Regions from separate parts of the Homo sapiens genome. Here region 2 is reported to be linked to region 1. The links are microRNA targets in miRTarBase. Many come from high-throughput screens and were not tested one by one. Region 1 holds a microRNA gene; the other region holds the end of a gene's coding sequence.
Evidence for each region. The annotated mature microRNA hsa-miR-4700-3p reads CACAGGACUGACUCCUCACCCCAGUG and lies in region 1 at 2,031-2,056, opposite strand. An mRNA with a match to its seed (bases 2 to 7 or 8) in the 3' UTR can be bound and repressed. Matches are read on the target gene's strand: a 7mer-m8 pairs with bases 2 to 8, a 7mer-A1 pairs with bases 2 to 7 and ends in A, and an 8mer does both.

Region 2: miRTarBase lists PIP4P1 as a target of hsa-miR-4700-3p. Seed matches in the 3' UTR shown: 7mer-m8 at 741-747 and 7mer-A1 at 832-838.

The regions. Positions count from the first base shown.
Region 1 is chr12:120,721,506-120,725,288 of GRCh38, reverse strand. It overlaps MIR4700 (microRNA 4700), which reads right to left and starts at 2,096; the gene lies at 2,023-2,096. It overlaps UNC119B (unc-119 lipid binding chaperone B), which reads right to left. Exons shown (of 5, transcript NM_001080533.3): 5 at 1,649-3,783.
Region 2 is chr14:20,455,448-20,458,831 of GRCh38, reverse strand. It overlaps PIP4P1 (phosphatidylinositol-4,5-bisphosphate 4-phosphatase 1), which reads left to right. Exons shown (of 7, transcript NM_144568.4): 7 at 130-1,151. The coding sequence ends at 273. APEX1 (apurinic/apyrimidinic endodeoxyribonuclease 1) reads right to left here. Exons shown (of 5, transcript NM_001641.4): 2 at 3,129-3,254; 3 at 2,731-2,918; 4 at 1,972-2,164; 5 at 1,065-1,841. The coding sequence starts at 3,186. The coding sequence ends at 1,324. Among named protein-coding and RNA genes, the nearest start is that of APEX1, 1.9 kb to the right of the region's middle. RefSeq lists a silencer at 1,448-1,742 and an enhancer at 3,343-3,384.

The sequences.
Region 1 (3,783 bases):
TGGCTCTCTATCTTTCGTTCTGTTTATTCAAGGCACTTTGCATCTGAAATTATCTGCTTCCCCGACTCGCTCCGAGAAGCTCAAGGACCTGTCTTGTGTTGGTGCTCAATATTTAGGCCCCTGGAGTTGGGCTGCAAGGAAAGCTTTCTTTTCCCCAGAGGCTGTGAAGGTGGGTGGAGATGCTACCCCCGTTCCACTTCAGTACTGTGTCTCATTCCCGATTGGGGCAGAACCCAGACACATATTTGACCCCTAGCATCCTCATCAGGACACCTTTGCCCCGCCCAAGAAACTATGCTGATTTTACTTGTCCCATAAGGGTCTTCTCTTGTGCAAGTGTGATTCTGATTCCCATAGCCTCCTGGGCACCACCCACGCCCTCCCAGGCACCCACACATCCCTCCAACTGCCTTTCTTTCCCAGCACTCAGCCAGGCAGGCATCTGTTCCCAGCATTGACCTATTTGCCAAAACTTCTGTCTCTTCCTCTTGGAGGAAAGTGGAAACCTCGGTCACTACTTCCTAGAAGAAAGCCAATCAAAAGATGCAGCAAAGTCCTTAATGTGTTACCTTTCTTTTTAAATAATGCATTTAAAAGAACGCCTCTAAATTCTCAGTACTTTAAAGTCAAATGAATGGCTCCCATTGGCAAATGCTCTAAGGGCTTCCTCACCTTTCCGTCATCCCACCTGGGAACCAGCCCTGGGTGGAAGAAACGATGAAGAAGCAGGAGAAAAGGGAGAAATAAGTGAGTTGTGTTTGTGAGCAAAGGCCAATAATTGCTTCAGGTGCCACAGAGCATCTAAACCAGACTCTTGAGAATTTGTGACTGTAAATATGAACGTTCAAATTTCATTTTAAAAGTATCCAAGTTTTCCAATAGAGACAGAATCAGATAGTGGTTGCAAGAGGCGAAGTGGGGGAAGTCACCTGGCTGCAAACACAAGGAACTCAGGAACTTTCTGAGTGGGTACGATGGAAATGTCCTATATCATGATTGTGATGGGTAATAAAAGTATTCATTTGTCAAAATGCATCAATACTCTTAATTGAGGTAAATTTTACTGTAGTTAAAGTATTTCTTAATAAGCCTACCTTTATGGCCAGCCACAGTGGCTCACACCTGTAATCCCAGAACTTTGGGAGGCCAAGGCGGGTTGATCACCTGAGGTCAGGAGTTCAAGACCAGCCTGGCCAACATGGGGAAACCCTGTCTCTACCAAAAATACAGAATTAGCCGGGCGTGGTGGCATGCACTTGTAATCCCAGCTACTTGGGAGGCTGAGGCAGGACAATCACTTGAACCCGGGAGGCGAAGGGTGCAGTGAGCCACCATCATGCCATCACATCCCAGCCTGGGAAAAAAGAGCGAAACTCCATCTCAAAAAAAAAAACCCTACCTTTAAAACATGCATGTAAACTTTCAATTTACAAAGCCACTCACCCTGGGAAAATATAAAGCAAAAATATTAAGCCTAAAGTCCAGTACAATTCCTCAATCACCCTAGAAGCCAGCTATACTCTAGTTCAACTACTTACAGAAGGGCCACATAATAGCCAAAGTAAGAGAAACCTGGAGCCCCCATTCGCCCCTGCTCCCCTCAGCAACACAACGGGCCCAACAATCAGGAGACAGGACGAGGGAGACGTACTGTGAAAATCTTTCTTTTATTACTGTCTCATGTGGCAAAATAACATTTTATACAAATAAGTCACCTAGTTTACTTTGGACACAAAGACAATAAAAACTGGAATGTGATTTTGGGGGAAGCGGGAAGGAGGAGGAAGGACAGATCAGGTCATTGATGTTTCTTATATTCTGTAAAAAATAGATTTACAGGAAAAAAAATAGACTTTCACAACTTCAATGACTTTACACGGTCCTTTGTAAAACCAGTGGTAAATCCACCTCCACCAAATCCTTCTTGAGGCTGATATGTTCTGTGACATGGAATGTGAGTAACACAATGGTTCAATGATTAGGCTCCTACACCAGGTACAGCAGCACCTGATGCCACAGGAATCCTCGTGCACTGGGGTGAGGAGTCAGTCCTGTGAATTTCAGGACACACTGTCCTCATCCCCAGACCTCACTGACATCATAGTGACACTGGCCATCAGAAGAAAGTGACTTTACAGAGGGGAAAAGAGTATCCTGGAAGCGTACCGGTGGGGCAGGACACACTAAGGCAGGACTCACCCAGTTTGTACATTAGACACAGCCTATTAAATCCATTCCAGAAATGAGTTCCACTTCAACTGAAAAAATAAACTGAAGATTGCCCAATCACTGCCATTTCACAAATTTCCAGTTTATGGTCAGCCCCAAAATCACATTCTTCCACCCTATGTATTGGAAATCAAATGGCCCAAAGACTGAGGTGTCTTCAGGAAGCACATGCTTGAAAAATGTTTTCTCTGCAAAACAGTATTGAGTAATACATAAGGAGACATAGCCTACTTTAGCCCAAAACTTCTTTCACTTGTTATGTCCTTTTACCTCTTAAAACATAGAATGAAATAAACTCGGATCTTCTTTGGAGAAGCTAGAAGGGCATTTTGGCCCAAAGGCTGTACAGGAAAAGAGAGGCTCTCTCCAGGAGACTGCAAGGCAAAGGAACAGAAGCAGGAGGGGCAGGCCCTCTGGCACCAGGTGGGCCTGCTACTCTGATGAAATGTGCTCCCAGCTCTTGACAAAGGGCAGGGTCTCCTATGCAGGTAGTTTTTTTGCCGCCTCCCATTGTATCACCCACAAGGTAACTGCTATCAACAGTTCAGATTCCTTAATAACATGGCAGCCTGAATGGTTCTGTTACTTTCAGAGAAAGTATGCCTTGCAATTCTCTCCCCAACTCAGGTACAAACGCTTGAATTTCAAACTCATACTGGTTTACACCCCAGAGTGGAATGCTTCTCAAGATTTCCTGAGCAGCTAGACACAGGAACCCACAGCCCCAGATACAGAACACCAGACTTTCAGAAGCAGCAAAGCCCTGTCCTGCTGGGCATGGACCAAGCACTATCCGCAAATGGTCTCCAGTGAGACTAAGGCAAGCTAACAAGGAAGAGGATACAGCACAACTCAAGCCAGATTGCCCACCTCCTCCTTCCTCCACATCCTCTTTCTAGCAAAAGCGAACACTGCAGATAAGAGATAGCCCACTAATGTAGCAGATACAGTGTGCCCAGGGGCATGTTTCCAAGACACACTCTACTAAGCACAGCTCTGGGCAGCTCCAGAACCACATCCCAGATAATACTCAAATATCAAATAGTAGAAACTGTCCCACCTGGGCCTCTGTCAAAGAGAGAAGGGATTGTTGTTACGCTTGACAGGAACATGCAAATCCCATTTGAGGAGCCACAATGAGAAACAGAAGGTGAGGAGACAGTGCTAACAGCCCTGGCATCTTTCTGCCAGTGAGGAGGTGGGAACAATGGCAATGCAGCTTTCCCCTGCAGCATAAGGGACAGAGCCACACGTAAGGCACCTGGATTTACAGTGGACGCCAGTTCTGAGAGTGGCCGGTCTGGTGATAAGGAACCCACTCCACAGGAGGAATGGTCTCTCCCCTCTCTCGGGGCTGAATCCAAGGCCAGCACACAGGGGTAAGCTAGGACCTTCTCAGTGAGAAAGCTGCCAGCATGTGGCATTGCCAAGACTCTGGCCTGGGACAAAGCACTGGGCCAAGGTTCGGGGCCACTCGCCCTAAAGCCCACACAGGGAGCAGCACTGGTGGTGGATGGACAGGAATTTCTGTGGCCACACACTGTCTCTTCCATC
Region 2 (3,384 bases), not on the chromosome of region 1:
GGGTGGCTACATGTGGATAAGGAACAAGGACTGAAGCGTGAGTTATTACTGTTCTTAGAACTAATAGGAGGTAGTGGAGACCAACATTAACCCCATCTTTCTTTTCTTCTCCCTCCTTATCTTCATCAGTTTGGCACATGGAAGCATGCACGGCGATATGGAGGCATCTATGCAGCCTGGGCATTTGTCATCCTGTTGGCTGTGCTGTGTTTGGGCCGGGCTCTTTATTGGGCCTGTATGAAGGTCAGCCACCCTGTCCAGAACTTCTCCTGAGCCTGATGACCCACAGACTGTGCCTGGCCCCTCCCTGGTGGGGACAGTGACACTACGAAGGGAGCTGGGGTAGTTAAAGGCTCCCGGGGCTTCTAGAAGGAAGCCAAGCAGCTGCCTTCCTTTTCCCTGGGGAGAGGTAGGAAGGAACCAGGCCCTCACTTAGGTTTGGAGGGGCAGATAAGAGCACTGCTGACCATCTGCTTTCCTCCAAGGGTTGCTGTGTCTAGGGTGAAGTAGGCAAAACGTTGCCCTTAAAACTGGGCCCTGAAGACGGTTCCAGCCTTGTCCTTCCTGTGTGCTCCCTGAGAGCCATTCCTGTCCCTTACACATTCCAGGGCAGGGTGGGGGTGGGTAGCCCTGGGGGTTCCCCTCCCTCTTGTGCACCATTAGGACTTTGCTGCTGCTATTGCACTTCACCAGAGGTTGGCTCTGGCCTCAGTACCCTCAGTCTCCTCTCCCCACATTGTGTCCTGTGGGGGTGGGGTCAGCCGCTGCTCTGTACAGAACCACAGGAACTGATGTGTATATAACTATTTAATGTGGGATATGTTCCCCTATTCCTGTATTTCCCTTAATTCCTCCTCCCGACCTTTTTTACCCCCCCAGTTGCAGTATTTAACTGGGCTGGGTAGGGTTGCTCAGTCTTTGGGGGAGGTTAGGGACTTATCCTGTGCTTGTAAATAAATAAGGTCATGACTCTACGCTTTTTCAGTTGTTAACTTGTGTGCATGAAAATATGAGGAAGAGAATGTGTAGCCCCACGAAGGGGTAAGACACGAAGACAGCAAGGCTGAAACTATGGCTCTTTATTTTCATGTGGATAATTCAAACAAAGTCATTAGTAGTCTTTGTTCAATTTTTTTTTAAAAAACAAAAAACCCTCAAATAAAAAATCTTGGGCTTAAAAGAACTCTATCACAGGAGCCTGGTTGGAGGATTCCTAGTTTTATACATGAGAAATAGAATGCAGATTTCTCTGAAGAGTGTTTAAAGAAGGAATGGTAGTTGAGGGGGCTTATTTCCCAGGCTCAAAGTGATTTAGGGGTGGTGTCACAGTGCTAGGTATAGGGTGATAGGACAGTGATCACTGCCGAGGGCCTTGGAACGGATCTTGCTGTCACACAATGCAGGTAACAGAGAGTGGGACAACAAAAAGTAATCAAGGCGCCAACCAACATTCTTGGATCGAGCATTCATCATATAAGTCCAAAAGGTGTAGGCATAGGGTGTGTTGGGGTAGAGGTGCCTAAAGCTGTCAGCCAGTGGCACAGCCTGCAGTAATTCCCCGAAGCCTTGGCGCTCTTGTGGCGTGAAGCCAGCATTCTTTTTGTTCCCCTTGGGGTTGCGAAGGTCAATTTCTTCATGTGCCACATTGAGGTCTCCACACAGCACAAGGGGCTTTCGGGAAGCCAGGCCCTTCAGGAACTTGCGAAAGGCTTCATCCCAGCGCTGCCGGTACTCCAGTCGTACCAGACCTCGGCCTGCATTAGGTACATATGCTGTTACCAGCACAAACGAGTCAAATTCAGCCACAATCACCCGGCCTTCCTGATCATGCTCCTCATCGCCTATAGAAATGAAACAGAATTAGCATAAAAAACTATAAGAAAAGGGAAAGCAATCAAGAGGTGGGGCAGAGATAGAGAATTAGCAATTGGTTTTGAAGAGTTCAGGCATTAGGCATCAATAGGGTCTCACCTATGCCGTAAGAAACTTTGAGTGGGCACTGGCGGGAAAGCAGGCCCACGCCACTGTACCCTTCCTTGTCCGAAGGAGCTGACCAGTATTGATGAGAGAGTCCAGGCAGCTCCTGAAGTTCAGCTGGTAGTTTGTTCTCTGAACATTTGGTCTCTTGAAGGCACAGTATATCTGGGGCTTCTTCCTTTACCCACTGTAAGTGAAAAGAAAGGTGGAAAACGTATTATCAATTCAGCAGAACATTTATTGAATAATCTATATGCTAAGTCATAGATACGCACGGGTTAAACAGTCTCTTGGCCTAAGGAGTTCGAGTCAAGCAGCACAATATTCAAACAATTCTAAGCTAGATAAATGAAAACAAATATAGAGAGGTAAGAAAGTCTTACATGCTATGCCAAGGAGATGTGTTTTTTCTATAGGCAGTGGATAGCAAGCTAAGATTTTTAAGCTATGGTTAATGGAATGGAGGACATGCTTCATATGGAATGCAATGCAGGAAGATAAAATGGAGGAAGTATAGTGAAGAGGTTTTTGCAACATTCTGGGAAGAGGAGAGAACACTAAAAAAGAAAATGGCAATGGAAGTGAAGGAACAGACATTTAGGAAATACAACTGGCAAGACTGGGGAAGCCCCACAGAAAACTACGGGCAGGAGAAAAATAAAACAGCCTGAAGGCTAAACGGAGAAAAGGGGTGACTAAACCCTAAGACCATTCAATACTAAAAAATGTCTCTTTCCCTCAAATTCCACTCACATCTAATCCTTTCTTCTTAATCCAGGCTCGAAGCCCATCCACATTCCAAGAGCAGATCTTGAGTGTGGCAGGTTTGCCACTGGGTGAGGTTTTCTGATCTGGGGGGTCCTCATACAGGGCTGGGCCCTCTCCTGCTGCCTCTTTGTCATTTTTCTTTGCGGCCGTCTTACTCTTCTTGGCCTCTGGCTCTATAAAATGAGTAATATATACTGACAAAAAGCTGGTGGTTTCCAACTGCGATCCGGCGTTAACTATAGACCCAACGAAAGCCTACGGTTCCTGCGACTTCTTCACAAACCCCTGCAAAAATGAGTCGGCCCGTACTTACCGTACATCAAGGGAATGACAAACACCCCCGCCGCAGCTTCTAGGAAGAAGGGCTGATTTCATTCCCTTACCTGTCCTGAGCTCATCCCCGTCTTCCGCCACCGCTCCCTTTTTCCCACGCTTCGGCATTCCCGTTACGAACGCCCTTGGGCAGCTGTACCGCGTCACCCACCGAAGCAATATTTTTACCGCGTTGCCTACAGACGCAAAGAAATCATGAAACCAGCTAAGGCTGGGGAGAAGACTCCTCCCAAGAGCGTCCCCGCACCAGGTCCCGCCTTTCAAACCACGTTATCTCTAAATCCTTTCCCCGCCTCCGTGCATCAT